Homo sapiens: one gene and its partners. The protein of the gene in region 1 interacts with the protein of each later gene in a pairwise test. Each region holds a gene or a part of one and is shown in the gene's direction. Other genes may lie near its edges.

What was found. The genes of interacting proteins can lie anywhere in the genome.
Region 2: the proteins of KALRN (region 1) and PCNT interact in a two-hybrid assay, tested with the Homo sapiens proteins (one large-scale study listed by BioGRID and IntAct).
Region 3: the proteins of KALRN (region 1) and DSCAM interact in a two-hybrid assay, tested with the Homo sapiens proteins (one large-scale study listed by BioGRID and IntAct).
Region 4: the proteins of KALRN (region 1) and GFI1B interact in a two-hybrid assay, tested with the Homo sapiens proteins (one large-scale study listed by BioGRID and IntAct).

Annotation. Positions count from the first base shown.
Region 1 is NC_000003.12:124,038,639-124,044,191, forward strand, and holds part of KALRN (kalirin), read left to right. Parts: intron 1-5,553. UniProt on the Homo sapiens protein: Promotes the exchange of GDP by GTP. Activates specific Rho GTPase family members, thereby inducing various signaling mechanisms that regulate neuronal shape, growth, and plasticity, through their effects on the actin cytoskeleton.
Region 2 is NC_000021.9:46,424,124-46,428,895, forward strand, and holds part of PCNT (pericentrin), read left to right. Parts: intron 1-1,707; coding exon 1,708-1,848; intron 1,849-3,498; coding exon 3,499-3,672; intron 3,673-4,271; coding exon 4,272-4,467; intron 4,468-4,772. UniProt on the Homo sapiens protein: Integral component of the filamentous matrix of the centrosome involved in the initial establishment of organized microtubule arrays in both mitosis and meiosis. Plays a role, together with DISC1, in the microtubule network formation.
Region 3 is NC_000021.9:40,014,419-40,019,190, reverse strand, and holds part of DSCAM (cell adhesion molecule DSCAM isoform CHD2-42 precursor), read left to right. Parts: intron 1-4,772. UniProt on the Homo sapiens protein: Cell adhesion molecule that plays a role in neuronal self-avoidance. Promotes repulsion between specific neuronal processes of either the same cell or the same subtype of cells.
Region 4 is NC_000009.12:132,984,162-132,988,933, forward strand, and holds part of GFI1B (zinc finger protein Gfi-1b), read left to right. Parts: intron 1-2,497; 5' UTR 2,498-2,517; coding exon 2,518-2,617; intron 2,618-3,120; coding exon 3,121-3,258; intron 3,259-4,035; coding exon 4,036-4,307; intron 4,308-4,772. UniProt on the Homo sapiens protein: Essential proto-oncogenic transcriptional regulator necessary for development and differentiation of erythroid and megakaryocytic lineages.

The DNA of each region.
Region 1 (5,553 bases):
GATGTGGAGATATTTTCTACCTCTGTCCTTCTGTTGAGCATTGGTTCTGTGAATCTAGACATTTTCAACTGAAGTGTTTGCAGTTACTTGGGCTTCAGCCAATCTCAGACTCAACTCTGTATATCTTTCCAACTCCCCAAACTAGCTCTTCCTCTTGACTTTCTTAATTCTATAAGTGACACCTTCACTCTCCCAGTCATGATATTTAAAACCTTGGCATTGTCTGTGAGGACTCTCTTTCCTCCAACAAACCCTGTTGAATTATCTTTCATAGTTAGCTCTTGCTGCTCATTCACAGGGCATGGCCCCAGGCCAGGCCCCATATGCCCCCATGGACTCCTTTCCTGGCCCTCATTCTCATCCCTTGGAAGCTGTTCACTTAGCCCCACTCCAAATTGGACCTGCAGACACATTAAACTTCCTAAAGCACTACTTTCATCACACCACTGCTTGGTGCTTGAACCTTCAGTAACCCCCTAGTGCCTTCAGGGTCAAGTGTCGGCCTCACAGCTCAACTCCAGCCAGGCTGCTCTCCACACACTGCCCAAGGGCTCCTGCATTCACAGTCTCCTTGGATCAACCACCCCGGCACCCTCCAAATCCAACACAGTCTTTAAGACTTGATCCCTGCCTTCTTCTGGGAGCTTTCACAGCTCACGATGACAGCCCTTTGAATTACTCACTGTCTGTACTCATTTTCTCACTTCATTAGTATTGTATTGTTATTTAGCCTTTCCATACATGAAGGCTTGTCTCCCCCATTGAAGTTATTTGTTCTTTGGAGGTAAGAAAAAGGATCTTTTTAAAAGCTTGTGATTAATCAAAAAACACCCCCTCACAATATAAATCAAACATGGCAAAATATAAGCAGCTATTGAATCTAAGTGATGGTTTGTTTATATTCACTGTATGATTTCTTAAACTTTTTTCTTAAATAATAACCCCATCACATCTAGGCAGGGAACCTTAAACTATTGTCATGTCCAGATCATATAGAAGGGAGATTTGGGAATAACAATCTATGTTGGTATGCAATTCCTTGAGTAAATGTCACCGCCCAGTCTGTACATTGCCAGGTACCTAAAAAGGGAGGAGTCTCTTACTTCCTGAGCTTTCTTTTGCAGCAAAGGAAAACATCTCTTTTTTTTTTTAAGTTATGCTTGATGCTCCAGAGTGTAAACACGATGCTTAATTTAATGCTTGTTGTCCCTTCTTGATCTCCTCCACTTTCACCCATTATGAACTGGGCTTTTGGTCACATCATTTTTCAGGAGCCTTTGGGGGAGTATTGGGAAGACTTTGTGGTTCTGGAGAGGGAATGTTGTTAATATTTCTAATGCTATATTTTTATAGGCTATTTCTACTATTAATATATTTTAGTACATATCAGTGACATCCAGGTCCACCTCTGTAAGATTTGGTAAGCTTTGCTTCATCCTTGTGCCACAAATCACCAATAACTTTATTACTGGTACATACTGTCCAGTCGTATTTGATAATCCCTTGAGGGATGAAAGGAGGTTTTAGAATAAACTGAAGCTACAGAAAGAAATTAGCTGAGAAGTAAGAAAATCTTCCTGACTATAAATAAAATCAATAAAACACTATAAGGGGTGAACTAGAGGTTCTTCTTAGATGTTGGAAATGAACACTTTTTACTTTTCAAAGTTTTCTCTGGTTCTGGTATTTGATAGTTTACTGCTGGAGGTGGTCAGTATGGTATAGCCCAGTGGTTCTCAACAAGGGCAATTCTCCCCTCCCACCCCCCATCATAGAACATTTAGCAATGCCTGGAGACATTTTTTTGGTGTCATAACTTAGGGAGGGTTTGCTACTGGCATCTAGTGGGTAGAGGTCAAGGGTGCTGCTAAGCATCTTACAATGCACAGGACAACAAATAATTATCCAGCTCCAAAATGTCAGTAATGCTGAGATGGAGAAACGCTGGTATAGCCAGAGGATGACAGGCTTTGGATGGAATAGGTTCAGCACTAACTAGGGATAGGATCTTGCATTAATTATTTAATATCTCTCATCCTCATCTTCTGCAAAATGGGACTGATAAAGCTTGTTTCACAGGTTGAGAGTATTAAGTAGGAAAAAACATGTATGGAGCATCTAGTGGTCTCTGACACACTAGAAGCACAAGAAATCCTAGTTATCCCTGTTGTTCCTGCTGTTTTAATTATTAATTGAATGTGATGGACAGAGGCTGAAGGTCTCTTGAAGGCATGCTAGGCAGGACTTTTGACATGGGATGCAAGAGGGTGCCAGAGAGGCAACATGATGCAGTGCAGGGATCCTGTGTGTGGCATCAGAAGGCTAGGTTTTGGGCCTTGGCTCTCTTTCATTCATTCATTTAATCATTTGTTTGAAAAATATTTATCAAGTGTTTACTATAGTCATGTACCACGCATGCTATGGGAGTATATAAAGCCATTAAAAAAAGAATGTAGAACAGGAATGGAAATGGAAATAAATATACCCCCTCTGGGAGCACTTGGATATAAGGGGTTAAAAGGGGAGGGAAAAGTCTATGAAGGAGGCTGAGAAGGTCAGACAATAGAGCAGGAGGTAAACACTCCATTTTGCTCTCTACTTACATGAATAACTTGGACAAATGACTTTAACATCTGTGTAAGATGAGGATAATAGCCCCCCGCCCCAACCCTTCCCTTATAGAGCTGCTGAGAGACTCAAATAAGATACTGTATCTGAAAAGTTGTACAATACTATCCGAATATATGTAGATCTTTCCAAATTGAACATTCTATTACTCTAAGTGCCTCTTCTGACAAGTATTATCTGATTTAATCTGATTTCCATGGGACCTTTCCAGTCCAGGAAGAGATGCAGTTCTTCTCATTTTGGTTTCCCAAGGGGACTGGATGGGGCACCCTTTTACAGCAGGTCAGGGGACCCCTTTTTTCTCCTCCTCTGCATAAGTAGAAGAATGGCAGTCCCTGTCTGGGTCATGGGGCACGTGGCTCGATCCATGTGGAGAAGGTCCTTGCTTCTTACTTCTGCTGAATCTCAGGTGTGCACAGAGAATCAGGTCCTTCCTGCCTTTTCTCTGGATGCAGAGGAAAGTTCAGAGTCCTCCTGCCACTCCTTTGTGTATGAATGACTGGCAGCGAAAATAACTAGGAAATGACTGACAGCCACAGAGCTGTCGGATCAATAGAGCTGCTTGAAATTGTGTCTGCCTAGGAGCGAGGGAACAGAAAGAATCAAATGGGTGGACAGAGGAATTAATTCAGGGAGGTAAAGAAGAAACTGTAGGAGAATTAGCTTTGTCTCCTCCCCATCTGCCCTATGACATTATTAGAAGGGAGCTGGACACTAGCTAGGGAACATGGAAGCAACAGATAAACAAATTTAAGAGTGAAAAGTGGCAGACGCTTTGTACACTTAAGGGAGTGGCTACTTCTCCTTGATCTGGGACATAGGATGGGTATGGTTTGGACAGGGAAGACAGAAAGTGTTGTGATCCCAGGTTAAAACAGCATTGAAAGGAGGTGTGAATATTCATAGCATATTTAGGGGCAGTAAATGGTCCAGTTTATGTGACTCAGTGGCTGGTGGAGGATCAATGGGAGATGAGACTCAGGAGGTGGCAACCAGGTTGATTAGTTGATTCCTTTATCAAATATTTACTAGGCTCCTACATCATGAAGGCATTGAATGGAAGGCCAATGAATTTGGTCTTTCAGCAGTTGGCTTTGGGAAGCCACTAAAAATGACATGATCAGAAAGATAAATCTGGCAGCCCTGTGGAGGGTCCATTGGAGTAGGGGAGGGACTGTTGGTTGGGGATGGGTTAGAAGATCACTGTGATAGGCTAGGAGAGTCTGAACTTGAGAAGCAGCAGCAGAAATGGAGAGGAGGGGATGGATATGAGTTACTTTGGGAGGTGGAGTCTATAGGGCCTGGCATCTTGGATGTTGATGTGTCAAGAAAGAGATAGGAACCCAAGATTACTCCAAAGTTTAGAGTTTGAGTGACTGAGAGAACAGACATACCCTTAATGAAAGTCAGGAACTGCTAAGAGGAGGAGCAGCTGTGGGGAGGCAGGGGAAGAGGGGGGATTTGGAGAATTTGCTTTGGGACATGTTGCATTTCAGGTGTCAGTGAAATAGCTAAGGGACGTGTGGATTCAGTAGGTGGATAATGAAGGGAGTCTGGAGCTTTGGAAGGAGGCCAGATCTGGAAATATAGATTTGGGAGCTATCTGAAAGAAGTTGTGGCTGGAGCTATCAAAATAGATGATATAATAAATGAAAAGCATACACAGAATTAAGGGCAGAGTGCCAAAGACAGAATTGTATATACAGGGGTATCTACAGTTGGGCTGTAGGAGAACAGATGCAGAAGGGCTGGAGGAGAACCAGGAGAGAGCAATACTTGGGAAACACAGGTGATCAACAGGGTTTAATGCTGCAGAGAAGTTGAGGGAGATGGGAACTGAGCAAATACCATTGGTTCTGGAGACTAGGAATCATTGGTAATCTTTGAAATAACAGTTTCAATTGTGTATGGGAGGTGGAATTCAAATTCCAAGGGGAATGAGGAGTGAGCGCATGGGGAGGAAGTGGTGGGAGTGCATATAGATGGCTCTTTGGAAAGGTTTGACTGTGAAGGGAAGATTAAAAATAGCAAGGTAGTTGGAGATGGGGAGCAGAGTTGAGGGGAGGTTTTTTTTAGGAGGGAAGATATGTGAATACCTAGGGATAGGGTAGAGGGAGAAGGCAGGCATGAGGAAGAGACTTAATATTTAGAAAAGACAGAAGTAATAGATTGAGGAAGGTCCTGGATGAGCCTGGAGGGGTGGATCTCAAGTTCAGCTTTGGGCCAGAGGAGGATGCTTCTTTCTTGGACTCTGGAGGGAAGGCAGACCTCAGTGAAGTAGCTGGCTGGGAAGGACCAATGGGCACAATGTTCCAGATTGACAGCTCCAGGAGAGAGAGCATCATCTGGCTGGAAGACTCAGAGACTAGTGGTGCCATGCTTGGGGAGGGTAGTACAAGCTGAGGCAGCTGTGAAATGGGTGGGCTGAGCTGTTGTGGCCCTAGAAGGCTCTTGGGCAGAGAAGCTAAGAAGCGAGGCTGGGAGATCTAAAGTTAGCAATCCGTTTAAAAGTGCTGGTGGCTTTCTTTTGCAAGCCGAGGTGGGACTGCTCTAGGCTGTAGTGGGGTCTGCAGAATTGCCTCCTACAGAGTATGAGTCAGAAAGGCAAGCGGGGAAAGAAGTAAGTGAGGAGAGGAGAGAGGGAGGGAAACTCAGGCAAGATGGTATCTGGGCAGCCTTCTGAGGAGGGGTCAATGTCTGGCCATCAGGGTACTGTATCAGTGATGGGATTTGCTCATGAATTTCCAGTTTCCGTAGTGTCTCTAGAAGTCCTAGAAGAAAGGGGAAGCAGGCTAGGGCTCATGAATGAGCCCCTTGCTCATTCTTCTCCATGAAGTTGAATCCTTCACACAAAAGAGAAGATGCCATACTCTCTTTCTTGGACCCAAACACTCCTTCCACCCCTTGTTTCAGGGGCTGACCCAA
Region 2 (4,772 bases), on another chromosome or scaffold:
TGCAGCCACAGACGCCAAGAGTGTGGTCGACGCTCTAATAGCCCCTGTGGTCCCTATGCTGAGGAGGCTGAGAGGTCCTGAGCACGGGTGGGGCCCCGGCCACTCTTGGCCACCTCTGGCCGTGCCTGGAATTGAGCCATAAGTGGGCAGGGTAGGTGCTGGAGCTCAGGAAATGAGGACTCCCCTGCCTCCGCCGCTGCCACCACCACCACTGCTGACAGGCAGAGCCGCCTGGTCCTGAGTGTGGAGATGGCAGAACCTTCTCAGCCCTAGTGATTGTGTCTGTGGGACCCCCCAGGCTGCCTCACAGGCCATGTTCTAAGGTACCCACTGGTCTCTGCCCCACTTCCCGGCCTCACGGGAACCCACCTGCAAGGGCCCCGTGTCACCTGGCGGGAAGCTGTGGCCCAGGGCCTCTGCATCTCTTCTTTGTAAGAGATGTTTTTTAAAATGCATTTTCTCCTCTATACAGAATCTAGAAAAGCATATTAAAAAGAAGGAAATGGCCTGTCCTCTGCAGCTGGAAGAGAGGGGCCAAGCAGCTTCAGGGCCTGCCCGCCGCCCTGCTCCCCCGGCCCTGCTCCCACTGCGCCCCCCCCAACCCTGCTCCCCCAGCCACGGCCTTGCTCCCCCCGTCTCCGCTCCTCCCCGCACCACCCCGCTCCCCTCAACCCCACCCTGCTCTGCCGCAGACCTCAGTTTGCATCCATCCTGTGCCACATACGTTATGTTTAAAGTAAAAGTGTTTTCAGTTGTTAGAGATGAACATAGTGTGCAATTTGGTTTCACACTTTAGTGTTAATATTTGACCTTTTTTGGCATATCGTTAAAATTACAGGAAAGCCTATTTTCAGTCAGTCACACCCGTCGTAGGCTTCATCATTGCCTCATTTTGCATTTCCCTCTTTTTGGACTTTATTAGATTATTTTTCTCTTCAGGTTTTTATGCAGACGTGTCCTGTGCTTGGGTGTGTGCTCATGTGGTGGTGACCGCGCTGAGCCTCTGGGCTCTGGGCTCTAGGCTGGTCGTGACACCAGCTTCTCCATAGGGCCGTCTGCTTACCCCTCAGCCTCTCTGGCGAGACAGTCAAGTGTGTGTCCGGACACCAGCTGCTGCGTAATCGGTGGGATAAAGCAGCCGCCTCGTGTTCACAGACCTGTGGGCAGGGCCTGCTGGGGATGGTTTTCTCTGCTCCCCGTGCCCAGCACAGGCAGCTTCACCCCACGCTGGTGGTCGGCACTGGCCTCAGCCGGACCACGCACAGAGGCCTCCTGGGTGGCCATCGTGTGGCCTTCTCGTAGCGTCCCAGGTGGGCAGGGAGTGTGTGATATGTTTGTGATCTCGCTGTGGACATTGGCCTAAAGCCCTGCCCTGAGCTTTGTCCAGGCTTAGGCGGGGGACGGTGTCCCCCTCAGGGAGCAGGTGGAGTGGAGGAAGTGGCGGGGCCATCTTTGGAGTGGCTTATAGAGAAATTCACTCCAAGCCTGGCTTCCGTGTTGTCTCTCTGAAGGTCGGGAGAGGTGGGCTTGAAAACCTTGTAGCTTGAGAAGTGGGTGCCGCCTGTACGAAGCCGAGGCGGTGCCCTCCCTCTCCACAGCTGCCCGCCCTTCACAGAGTCCTGGCGGCAGCTCGGGGCCGCAGGTGGTGTAGAGCGTGGCTGTGTGGGGTGGCAGGCAACTCCCTTCTGACGCGCTTTCCCGCCACAGGCTTTACTGCAGATGGTGCGTGACGAGAGCCACCAGATCCTGGCGCTGTCAGAAGGCCTTGCACCCCCAAGCGGCGAGCCACACCCACCCCGGAAGGAAGACGAGATACAGGACATCTCGCTCCATGGGGGAAAGACGCAGGTTTATTTTGCCCTTCACACACTTCTTTTCCAAAGGATTTAAGGAGCTTGTGGTAATGGCCGCGTCCTTAGGGCCACGTGGACACTAGGATTTCTTTCTTTTTTTTTTTTTTTTTTTTTTTTTTTGAGACTCGGCTCACTGCAACCTCCACCACCCCGGGTCAAGCAGTTCTCTGCCTCAGCCTCCCGAGTAGCTGGGATTACAGGTGCATGCCACCATGCCCAGCTAATTTTTGTATTTTTAGTAGAGACGGGCTTTCACCATCTTAGCTAGGCTGGTCTTGAACTCCAGACCTTGTGATCCACCCGCCTCAGCCTCCCAAAGTGCTGGGATTACAGGCATGAGCCACCGTGCCTGGCCTAGGATTTTTTTTAGCACGGCCAAAAAGACTGAGGTCCAAGAACCCTGGGGAGGCCTTCCCATCTCCCACAGCCAGCGCAGGCTCTCGGGGCAGGTTCCCTGCGGGACGTGGAGGTGTGTGGGGGGCAGAAGGGCTCAGGGCTTTCAGGCCTGTGCCCTGTGTGAGCCTGCGGGGAGGCTGAGAGTGGTCCCTCCTGGCCATGTGGCCCTGCGGACTCGGCCCATTCCAGCACTTGTCCCCCAGGGCCTCTCCTCCTGCCACTCGGGTGACTTGCCCTCCGGCCTCATTCCTCCCCTTGGGTCTCTCCTACCTCCCCCTCCACACCCCAAGCCCCAGCAACTGGACCTCAGGGCCTCACCTCTGTGCTGTCGACCCCGCACCCCACTTTTCCCCAAGTCCTCCCCATCTCCCTGCCTGTCTGCTTCCATCACCAGGGCTTGTGGAGGTTGTGGAGTGGGTGCCAACTCCCATCACGCTCCCTCCCATCTCCGTGCCCACCCTGTCCTGCCCCTGTGCCTGCCTCTGACTGGGATCAAAGCTTTGTGAGGGAGGGAAGGGCTTTCTCCCTGTGCCTGGAACGCACAGGGTGTGCTGGTGCCATGGAGAGCCGGTGGGAGGGTCAGCCCCACCCGCCTCCGCTCGCCCCTCCAGCAGGCCCTGGTTGTGTGCGAGCGGCAGCCTGGCTGGCATTCAGGAGGCTCATTGGTGCTGCACGCTGCCCCTGGGGACCAGCGGGTAGCCCCTTGCAGCCTTAGGTCCCCTCCAGGCCCTGGGCCTTGAAGGCACAGCAGCAGGAAAAGAGGGAAGGAGCTTTGCTGACATTTTCCTGACCTTACTTTATCGTCTTTTTCAGTCTCTTCTGTGCTCATGATGGCAGCCTTTGCTTCTCGTGCCTTGAATGGCCCTGGGCAGTGTGTGTCTTCTCTTCTGTCAGGGTCATTTCTGTTTGAACGGCTGTCAGTCTGCTCAGCTGCCGTAACAGAACACCCCAGACCAGGGGGCTTAAACAGCAGACATTGATTTCACCTGTTGTGGCATCAGGGTGCCCACAGGGTTGGATTCTGGTGTAGGCGCCCTTCCTGGTTTGCGGACAGCGTCTCCGTGCTGTGTCCTCATATGATGGAGACAGCGAGTGAGCTCTGGTGTCTCTTCCTCTTCTTAAGAGGCCTCATTTACCCTGAATCACCTCCCGCAGGCCCCATCTCCAAACGCAGTCACACTGCGAACTTTAGGGCACAAGGATGCAGGTGCATTTGTGAGGACGCCACGTTTCTTCCTTCTTCCTTTAGGAAGTGCCCACCGCGTGCCCCGATTGGAGAGGGGACCTTCTGCAGGTTGTGCAAGAGGCCTTTGAAAAAGAGCAGGAGATGCAGGGGGTTGAGCTGCAGCCCCGACTCAGTGGCTCAGATCTGGGGGGTCACAGCTCCCTGCTCGAAAGGCTGGAGAAGATCATCCGTGAGCAGGTGAGTGTCAGCTCTGCCACCAGGCCTCAGTTTGCCCCAGGGGTCCAGCCCTGGCAGAGAGGGTGACACAGACTGTTTTGTGTGTGAATTTCGGTTTGTGTGTTTCTCTCGACCGCTGGAATGTGGCTGTCACTTACCCAGGTGTTGACGCTCAGTCCATGCAGGATGCTGCACTTTTCCACCTGCAGCTGTAACAGGACAGGTGTGCTCGAGATGCACCCTCAGGCCTCACTCTTTTCTGAGATAGGTGGCTAAAGAAACGTTCTCCATTCCAAGTAGCCCCTCCTAGGTTGAGAGGTGCTCTGTGTGCAGGGCTGGGTGGCGTTGGTGCCGTGGGGACACTGGAAATCCTGTTCCTGCCAGCATACACGAGGAAACCTAGTGTTGAGAGTAACTGGCTTGCAGGCCTCACGCAGGGTAGTGCAGCCCAGCCCTGACGCCTGCAGGCCCCAGAGCTGAGGCCCAGCAGATACTGTGCACCCATCCCAGACTCAGCAGGCTTGTCCCGGCGGAGCTGGTTTTGAGGGCGGGCAGCAGGGAAGGCCGGGGCATGGGGTGGCTGCCCAATGCTCAGGCTGCTTGTCCCATTGTGCCCCCAGGGAGACCTGCAGGAAAAGTCCCTGGAGCATCTTCGCTTGCCGGACCGGAGCAGCCTGCTGTCCGAGATCCAGGCGCTGCGTGCCCAGCTGCGCATGACGCACCTGCAGAACCAGGAGAAGCTGCAGCACTTGCGCACGGCGCTGACAAGCGCAGAGGCGCGCGGGAGCCAGCAGGAGCACCAGCTGCGCAGGCAGGGTGGGTGTCACTGTCTACACTGCCTGGGGCCCGGCCTCTGCACCTGCCCGCCCGACACTCACCTGTGTGGCCTTGGGAGCAGAGGGTGGTGACAGGGCATCATCTAGTCAAGCCCCTGAGTGTTGCCATGGTTGTCAGCTGATAGGACTGAGCAGAAAGGACCCTGGAGACAGGCAGCGCTGGGTGGGGCTGGCACGGAGGCCTCACTCTTGGGCCTGATGTGGGCAAGAGGGGCCTGGGTTGGGCTCTGAGTGCTGGCAGATTCTTGGGAGCTCATGCTAGAGTTCAGGAATGTCTCGTAGGTT
Region 3 (4,772 bases), on another chromosome or scaffold:
TGCTATGTGTAGGCATCTTAAGCATATAGGAGGACAATTAGAGAATCCAGGTCCTCAGAGGCTTTGTTGATGAGCACATGGGCTGGGGTTTTAAAGAACATAAGTGCCTGTAATAACAGAGCTTACCGCTGACTACTCTGGTGCTCTCTTCTCTGTAAGTGCATTAATTATTGAGAGAACTCATTTGCAGCACGCACACAGTTGAAAGGGCTACTTTGGACGCTAATCAGAAAATACACATTGTTGAAGGGAGCTAATTAGAGAATCACACAACTTTGTAGAGCTTTGCCTGAAAAACTGGATCAATCAGAGATATTGGATATTCAGAGATACTTGTCAGACCTGCAATAAACAAATACATGTAGGCATTGCATGTAAAGATGTAACACTGAGCTGTTTCCATTAGGAAGGATTTTTATTTCTCATCTGTCCATTTCAGTGACTGGAGCCCTCTTGATAACTACATCTGAAGTGGGAGCCCCTGCAGGCAGGATGCAGATATTATGAGTCCTATCTTTTGATTTCAAACACGTTTCTTCCTTCCAATCTAAGACCTGCGCATTCTGCAGTCCAGCCGGGACCACAATGCTATTACTTTGTGGAGGTTTAATAAGCCCTGTGCATTCAATGGGGAGTCACTAAAATAGAGATTTATCCCCAAATCTGTTGCAACACATTACAAATATGTCAAGCGTTCGTGATTGAGTCGGGTCTCAGAAAGAGCATGAGGCATTCTTGACCTATATATTTAAAGAACCCTGGAGGTAAATGTCTGTCCCATTTCCTCAAATATACAAACAACATGATAAAAATAATATTGAATAAAAATAATTTAAAATTTAAAATAAATAAATAATAAAATTAACAATTTGTTTATCAGATTCTTAGGAATAAAGACATAATCACTTTCAGGAGATTGAATGTATAAAACTACAAATCGCAAGACTGGTCAATTAAGGTGTATTGATTCACATACAAAAGGATGTTCACATTACAAAAGAATTATTCAATTTTTTCTTAATGACAGCTCTGTTAATGCTTTCATCACTTTTTTTGCAAATAATCCCTGGTTAGAGAAGACTGAAGAATAACTACCATAAACGAACATTAGTAATTTTCAATGCCATCAAGTTTCATAAAGTTTTAAAAACTCAAATTCTTTCAGGAACAAAGCTATTCTATATGGCAAGAGATTCCTGAACCCTCCACATTAGTGTCTATAATGGGTAGGCCTCATGCCATTATATTTTTCTAAGCCAAAGTTCAGATGCATCAAGTTACCAAAACCCTTTTTACAAGAATGCCAAATTATGTAATTCCTTCCTATAAGAATGTTATGGGCCAGGTGCGGTGGCTCACGCCTGTAATCCCAACACTTTGGGAGGCTGAGGCGGGTGGATCACCCGAGGTCAGGAATATGAGACCAGCCTGACCAACATGGAGAAACCCTGTCTCTACTAAAAATACAAAAATTAGCCAGGCGTGGTGGTGCATGCCTGTAATCCCAGCTACTCAGGAGGCTGAGGGGGGAGAATCGCTTGAACCGGGAGGTGGAGGTTGTGGCGAACCGAGTTGCACTCCAGCCTGGGCGACAAGAGCAAAACTCCATCTCAAAAAAAAAAAAAATGTTATGGCCCATTTATTGTCTAGGTATTTATTACTGAGCTTCCCTTGGATCCAGTTGACAGTAGGAAGCCAACGTTGAATTAGAATGCCTTTAATTTCAGTGAGCCCAGTCCAGTGTCGCTGGGGTCATTTAGTGAATTACATGCTGCCATTCCCAGTGAAATCATATAACTACTCATCATCACTTAGTAGAATAAAGATATCCTGAAAAAGCTAAATGGAGTTTTGAATCATAAATCCCAAGTGGTGCAACAATGTAATAACACAATGACAAAGAAATCATTTGCTGCATTTCCCAAAAATAAGGTCATTGCTCCTGTTGTTCGCGGAAAAAAATTTTCAAGACGGGTAATAACATTTTGAAAATTTGTATGCTCATTTAAATTGTATAAAATGCATTTTTAGGGCTTGATTTGGCCATATTTATTTTTAGTTCTCTTATACTTTTTTTTTTTTTTTTTGAGATGGAGTTTCATCCTTGTTGCCCAGGATAGAGTGCAATCGTGCAGCAACCTCCAATGCGCAGGTTCAAAAGATTCTCCTGCCTCAGCCTCCTGAGTAGCTGGGATTACAGGCGTGTACCACCACGTCCAGCTGATTTTTCTATTTTCAGTAGAGACGGGGTTTCCCCATTTTGGCCTGGCTGGTCTCGAACACCTGACCTCAGGTGATCCATTGCCTAGGCCTCCCAAAGTGGGCGGGGATTACAGGCCAGTTCTCTTATACTCTTGAATAGTCCTTTCCTTCTGTTATGCTGGTTGTTCTTTTTCTGTGGGTAAACTTGAAGGTGTTTCCTAAGGTTCAGGCTTTAAACACTGTCTAAACACATATCACTTTCATTGCCCCGCTAGCAGAGCAGCTGGCTAATGGCAGCCCTCACTTGGCTCAGGTGGTCTCAGATCCCCTCAGCCTGCACCTTCGGGGCCTATGGGTCCAAAGGGGCTGGATGAGGAAGGCTCAATTAATTATTGTTAGCATACAGTAACATAAGGAAAGCAGGGGATATTTTGAAGCAAAAGAAACAAGAATGTTCAGTTACTTTAGACTCAGAAAACGAGCAGTGAGTCATCCTAGAGCTACGTTTCTATGATAAAAATACCTACTAGATATCTTGTCTTGAATGTCCCCAGCTGCATCAAACTCAGCAGGTCTGAAACTAAACCCTTCATCTTTTGTCATCAAAGTACGATCTTTCCCCTATACACCCTTTCACAGTTAGTGATTTCACTGTCCACACAGTTTCCTGAGCTTAGAGCCTGGGAAGGAGTCACCCCTAACCCCTTCTCCTCTGTCACCACTCCCACTTGTCATTGACTCTGAAGCCACCTTCCTTGGACCCCCTTCATATCTCACAATTTAATTCCCTCTCTCACATCCCACAGCTGCTCCTGAGCTCAGACCATCATCATATCTCTCTCCCTGCACATCCTTTACCCTGGGCCCTCGCTCCAGGACCACACACCACCAGCCCATTCTCTAGACAGAGTTTTGCACCTGGTATGTCACGAGTTACAGGTGTGCCAAGATGGTGAGTCCTTCAGACCTCAAGGTGGCCAGAAACAGCTCCCTGGGTTCATCCCAGTGTACTGCACAAATACCCCTTGTCTGCCTGTTCCTCAAAAAGTGGGAAGCACTGGGCTGGATAAGGCACACTGTCTGTACCAAAACAGCAGAAACTCAGACCCAGCGTCAGTCCAGCTCAAGTCAGGCAGTGTTGGTTGCAAAGTGGACCTGGTGGCTGGGCCCTAATTGTGCTCATGCTTTGCAAGGAGGTGATGGGATATATTAAAGCCTTGAAACAGGGCCCTGAAGATGGGAATGAGAAGGAGTCAAGGCCAGGTGGCTCATGTCTGTAATCCCAGTGCTTTGAGAAGCTGAGGCAGGAGCATCACTTGAGTTCAAGAGTTTGAGACCAGCCTGGGAAACCAAGCAAGACCCTGTGTCTCCAGAATATTTTAAGAATAATAATTAGCCAGGCATGGTGGTATGTAACTGTAGCCCTAGCTACTCTGGAGGCTGAGGTGGAAGGTTTGCTTGAGCCCAGGAGTTTGAGGCTACAGTGAGCCATGAATGCACCATTGCACTCTAGCCTGGGCAACAGAGCAAGACTCTATCTCTTCTTGTTTAAAAAAGAAAAAAAAAAAAAAGAGTCAAGAGATATTTTGCCGGTAGAATTAACCTGGAGAGAAAGGTGTCAGTGAAACCTCTGAGGTTTCAAGGATGGAAGGATGGTGATAATGTTACACAAGATGGAGCACACAGGAGAGAAGCAGTATTTGGGATTGGGAGGGGATGGGGTTGGCCTTCATTAACTGAATTGGTAGACTGTGGCCTTCAGAATTCCAGATGGACACTCGTGTGGAAATGCCTAGCAAAGCACCTAAAATTCACATCTAGGGCTCAGGAGAAAGAGCAAAATGGAAAAGATAGATGGGAATGTTATTTATAAAGCAATGAGGAAAGCAGCCAAGCCTTCCGAGAGAGGCCTGAGAGCAGGCCACTGAACACTCCGTATTTAGAGGAAAGACAGAGAAAAGGATCCAGTCAAGGAAAGTGAGAAAGGGTGGCCAGAAATGTAGGCAGAGATCTGGAAGACCACAGTGCCCTGGCAGCTGAAAGGGCCAACAACAAAAATATCAACGGCATCAAATGCTATAGTAATGCAGGTAGGAAGAGGACGAAGAGGAAACCAGAGAATTTGGCAATGAGAGGTCAGGGTGACCTTTCAGTAGCTGATGGTGAAAGAAGCTGTGTCAGTTCAGGTTTTTGAGAAGCGCCTAGCAAGACAGATTAGACACACAAGGAATTTATTGGGGAAATTCTTGTGAAGAAGGAAGCAAAAGGAAGCAGGAGGTGGCAAGGAGAGTCTGGAGACCATAACAGAGGTCCGACACCTGTGAGAGGAGAAGGCGAAGGAGGGATTGGTTGGAGGCACGTCAGGCTGCGGTGCACTTCTGAGAAGGCTGCAGTGAGGCTGATGGGGTATCCCTGAGCAAAGGATGCCTGTTAGGGAGATCCTGCATCGGGCGGGGACGGCCATGAGAAAAGCCCTGTCACGCTTGTCATTGGCTTGCAGCATCCCAGAGAACACATGCCTCCCTTCCTGCAGCAGATGCTCTTGGTTTTTTTGTTTTGGTTTGGGTTTT
Region 4 (4,772 bases), on another chromosome or scaffold:
GACCCTCACAGGCCCCCTCAAAACAAAGTGCAAGGGGAACCCCACACCCCCAGTCCTCCTCCTGCTCACTGGGTCCCCTCCTCTCCCCCTAGGGTCTGGCCTCCCCATGGGCTTTCTTGAAGCGAAGAAGAGTTAAAAGCGGGAAGGAAGGGGGGTGTGGGGAGCCCTGGTGAGGGAGGGGGAGGAGGCAAGAGGAGGAAGACGTGTCCCTGGGAGATAAGGCCGTGGGCTGCCCCCGGCCCGAGCCTGTGTTCAGAGAGCCGAGAATCTGACCGCGGGAAGGGACCCCAGAGGCCTTCAAGGTCCTTTCTCCTAATTTTAGAGCTCAGAGAGTACAGGGCCTTGAGCGCGGCCCTGGCTTCTGGGAGGCTGCTGCAGCCCTTGGCACAGGGCTTACCCCGTCCTTTGAATGCACCTGCAGTGGGCTGGGTGCTGGGATGCGGGGGAGCACATGCTGAGCACCTCTCACACTCGCTCCTGATGGATAAAGGTCCTTTCTCGCTCCCCACCATCCCATGTGGTTGGATTGGGATCCCCGTTTAGCAGATATGAGCACTGAGGCTCAGTGATGAGCCTTACAGCAGGCAAGGGCTGGGCCTGAGCTTGGCCCCCTGTGCAGAGCCCCCAGTCCAAACTCTTGATGCCCCCAGGCTCTGGGCCAGGGGGAAGCAGGCCTGGGCATAGTCGGGTCCCTCTTCTGCCTGGCTGTGGTTCATCTCCTTGGGGAAGGGGTGAGTCCCTGGCCCTTTTCCAAGCTGCATTCTCTAATCTCCCACCTCCCACCCTGCTCCTGGGCCAAGGCCTTATCACCCAGGCCCTCACTGCTGTTCTGAAGCAGCTGTGATCCCTCTCCCGCCTTCTCCGGACCCTATCACCCCTGCAGCCTTGCATGGCGGCTGGCCCAAGGGGTGGGGGGGTGGGACTCCTCTGACGCCTCAGGCATGGGCCTGGTGTCGGCCTGGGTGCAGCGTGGGGGCAGAAAGGATAGAGGACCACCAGAAGATGCTCTCCAGAGTGCCCGGGGGAACCTCACAGGCTGAGTGCAGGGATGTGAACCATTCTGGGGGCCAGGCAGGGCTCTCAGCTCCAGAGGGCTCTGCAGGGGAAGCCAGGAGTCCTGGGGTGGTCAAGTTGGTCCAGCCCTGTCACTCCCTGACTCTGCCTGGGATGGTCCCTTGACTGATGTGGTCCTTGGTTTCTTCTCCCACTCCCTGACTGGTGGGGTTGGTAGTGATGCTGGGCTGCCCACGGAAGCTGGGGGCTGTTCGCCTCTTCTCCTGTGTCCATGAAGCCTCAGGCCTCCAGGTGCAGTGGAGTTGGGGGTCCTCTCAGGTCTTGAGTCCCCACACCCCACTCCTCAGAGAGAGAAAGCCCCTGTCTCTCTAGGGAACAGACTCTGGGCCAGGGCTGTGGACAAGGCGCAGCCGTGCTCTGGCGGCTGTGGCTTGCGGCTTGCAGGAGCACGTGGATTGGCAATGTCCCCTCGTTTGCTGCAGCTTCTCTGCCAGAGCCCCCAGTGATAGACACTGAACACCTGTGATGCACCTGTCAGCACTGCAAGCCTGGACATCCCCACTTACAGCAAAGGGGATAGGCCCAGAGAGGTTAAGTGTGTGTCCCAAATTGCACAGCAAGTGAACTGAGATTCTAACCCACGAACCACTGATTCCAAAACCTAAGCTCAGACCACCCGTTTCTATGGCCTCTGAAGGTGAATCTCACTGGTACCCAAATGTAGCTTTCTAGAATTGGGGTCCACTGTGTGTCACAGAGGGAGACCCCAGTCCCTGCCTTTCCTTTTCTGCTCCATTGCAGCCCAGGTCATGCCAATGGGAGCAGGCTTGTCTGAGCGTTTTCTAGGGGGCGATGCATTCATTTCCTGGTGAAGGAGCAGTGAGGGAAGTTAGGATTTGTAGCTGCCGTAACAAAATAGCACAAACAGGTGGCTTAAAACCAACAGAAATTTATTCTTTCATGGTTCTGGGATCTAGAAATCCAAAATCGAGGTGTCCGCAAAGTGGGTTCTTTCTGCAGACGCCAGGGGAGAGGGTTTCATGCCCCTCTCTGAGTTCTGGCGGCTGTCGGCACTGCCTGGCATTCTCTGGCTGATAGAAGCTCCGAGTTCTGGCGGCTGTCGGCACTGCCTGGCATTCTCTGGCTGATAGAAGTGTCACTCTCTGCTCTGTTGTCGGCACACGGCGTTCTCCCTGGGTGTCTGTGTCTCTGGGTCCAAATTTCCATCTTCTTATAAGGACACGAGTCATCTTGGATTGAGGGCCCATCCTAACCCGGAATGACCTCATCATAACTTGATTACATCTGCAAAAACACCCTATTGCTAATAAGGTCACATTCACAGGTTCTGGGTGGACATGAACTTTGGGGGCCACTGTTCAACCCAGTATAGCTGGTGTTTTATCTCAGGAGGAGGTTCTGAGATATGGAGGGGTATTGTTCTCTTGTCCTTCCTAACCGCTCCCATCCCTCCCCCTTGCAGGTGTGGGGTGCACACTGAAAATGCCACGCTCCTTCCTGGTGAAGAGCAAGAAGGCTCACACCTACCACCAGCCCCGTGTGCAGGAAGATGAACCGCTCTGGCCTCCTGCCCTTACCCCGGGTGAGTCAGAGCCCGGGCTGGCGCCTGCTGCACCCACGGGGGGCTCTCTGCTCTGCGTGATGAGGGTGCAGCAGCGTCCCTCCTGCAGCAGCCTCTTCTTCCAAGTCTGGAAACAGGAGTGCAGTAACTGTGGGTTGCAGATGAAAGGAGTAGACAAATGAGTGATGCCCTCATCCCTTCTGCCCTGTTAGGGAGACGAGAGTGTCAGGTTGGAGCCAGTACTTAGTTACTGGCATGTGGGGCCTCACTGGAGGCCCAGTCTAGGGCTGGAGTTGGGTTGCTCAGAAAAACAGACTGGTCCAAAGTCTTCCCCGGGGTCTCCTCCTGGCCTCTTCTTGCCGCCGCCTGCTCTGGGCAGAGCCCGGGAGTGTGAGCCGCCAGAAGCAGCGGCACGTGGCTGTCTCTCTGGGCCTCCTCCTCCTAGGAAGGGCGTGCCCTCCTTGCTCCCTCTGGGCTTCCCAGAAACCGTGGCTATTGATGCTGATGGTCCTATCTCCCCACAGTGCCCAGAGACCAGGCTCCAAGCAACAGCCCTGTCCTTAGCACTCTATTCCCAAACCAGTGCCTGGACTGGACCAACCTCAAACGAGAGCCGGAGCTGGAGCAGGACCAGAACTTGGCCAGGATGGCCCCGGCACCAGGTACCCCGCTGTGACCCACTGTCATTCCCCAGGGAGTGCCAAGGGGAGGAAGGATGAAGGGACTCTTGCAGCAGGGCCCCTTGGGGCCCTGGAGTCAGGAAGGACCCACGAAGTCACTGGATGCAGCCCGGGCTCTGTGGCTTCTGCTTGGGCCTCTCAGACAGGGAGCTAATTCCCGGATGTGGGCTAGGTGGGAGAAGAGGCCAGAAGCAGCAGCTGGGCCGGTCCGTGCAGGGAGTGAGGTGGGCACTGTGGAGTGAGGCTGGGGGTGTCTCTGGGCTGGAAAAGCTGAGGAGCCACAGTGAGGACCCAGACATTCCTGGCAGTAAGTATCTGGGTTGACACCCTGAAACCCTCCACATGAGGTGATGAAGGTAGTGGTGTGTGGTAGAGGGTGGTGGGAAGGGGGTGCCCTGTGTTTATTTTATTTCATTTTATTTTTTGAGACAGTGTCTCACTCTGTTGCCCAGGCTGGAGTGCAGTGGCACGATCTCAACTCACTGCAACCTCTGCCTCCCAGGTTCAAGCAATTCTCCTGCCTCAGCCTCCCTAGTAGCTGGGATTATAGGCGTGAGCCACCACGCCTGGCTAATTTTTGTATTTTTTGGTAGAGACAGAGTTTCACCACGTTGGTCCGCCTGGTCTTGAACTCCCGACCTCAAGTGACCCACTTGCCTCAGCCTCCCAAAGTGCTGGAATTGCAGGCATGAGCCACGCCACTGTGCCCAACCCCCTGTGTTTAAATGAGTAACCAGGCCTGTGTCGTTATCTCCACAGAGGGCCCCATTGTGCTGTCCCGACCCCAGGATGGGGACTCTCCACTGTCCGACTCACCCCCATTCTACAAGCCTAGCTTCTCCTGGGACACCTTGGCCACAACCTATGGCCACAGCTACCGGCAGGCCCCCTCCACCATGCAGTCAGCCTTCCTGGAGCACTCCGTCAGCCTGTACGGCAGTCCTCTTGTGCCCAGCACTGAGCCCGCCTTGGACTTCAGCCTCCGCTACTCCCCAGGCATGGATGCGTACCACTGTGTGAAGTGCAACAAGGTGGGCAGCGGGGGGTGTGGTGGGCACCTGGGCCCTCCTCTCCGCACTCCCTCTCAACTCACTGGCAGCTCTGGGCGTTCTCTGTGCTGTGAATGTTGGGGCTCTGGTGGGATTAAGGATTCAAAACGTTCATCCTCATCACCATTCATTGAGCTCTGACCACGTGCCTGGCCCTGTGCTAAGCAATTGACAGGCATGAGTGCCAGAGTCAGATGAAAGGTTAAGGTTCAGAGAGGTTAAGTCACTTTTCCAGGATCAGACAGCAAGTAGATATCAGAACCAGCATTCAAACCCAGCTTCGGCCAACTCCCAGCTCTTAACCACTGGGCTATTCAGCCTCTAGATGAGGCAAGGAGGGGCCTCCAGATCCCCTCTCTCACATCCAACTTTGTAGAAGGGAGACTGAGCCACAGAGAGGCAAACGGACCTCCCTGGGACACACAGCAAGCAAGCAGCAGAACTGGC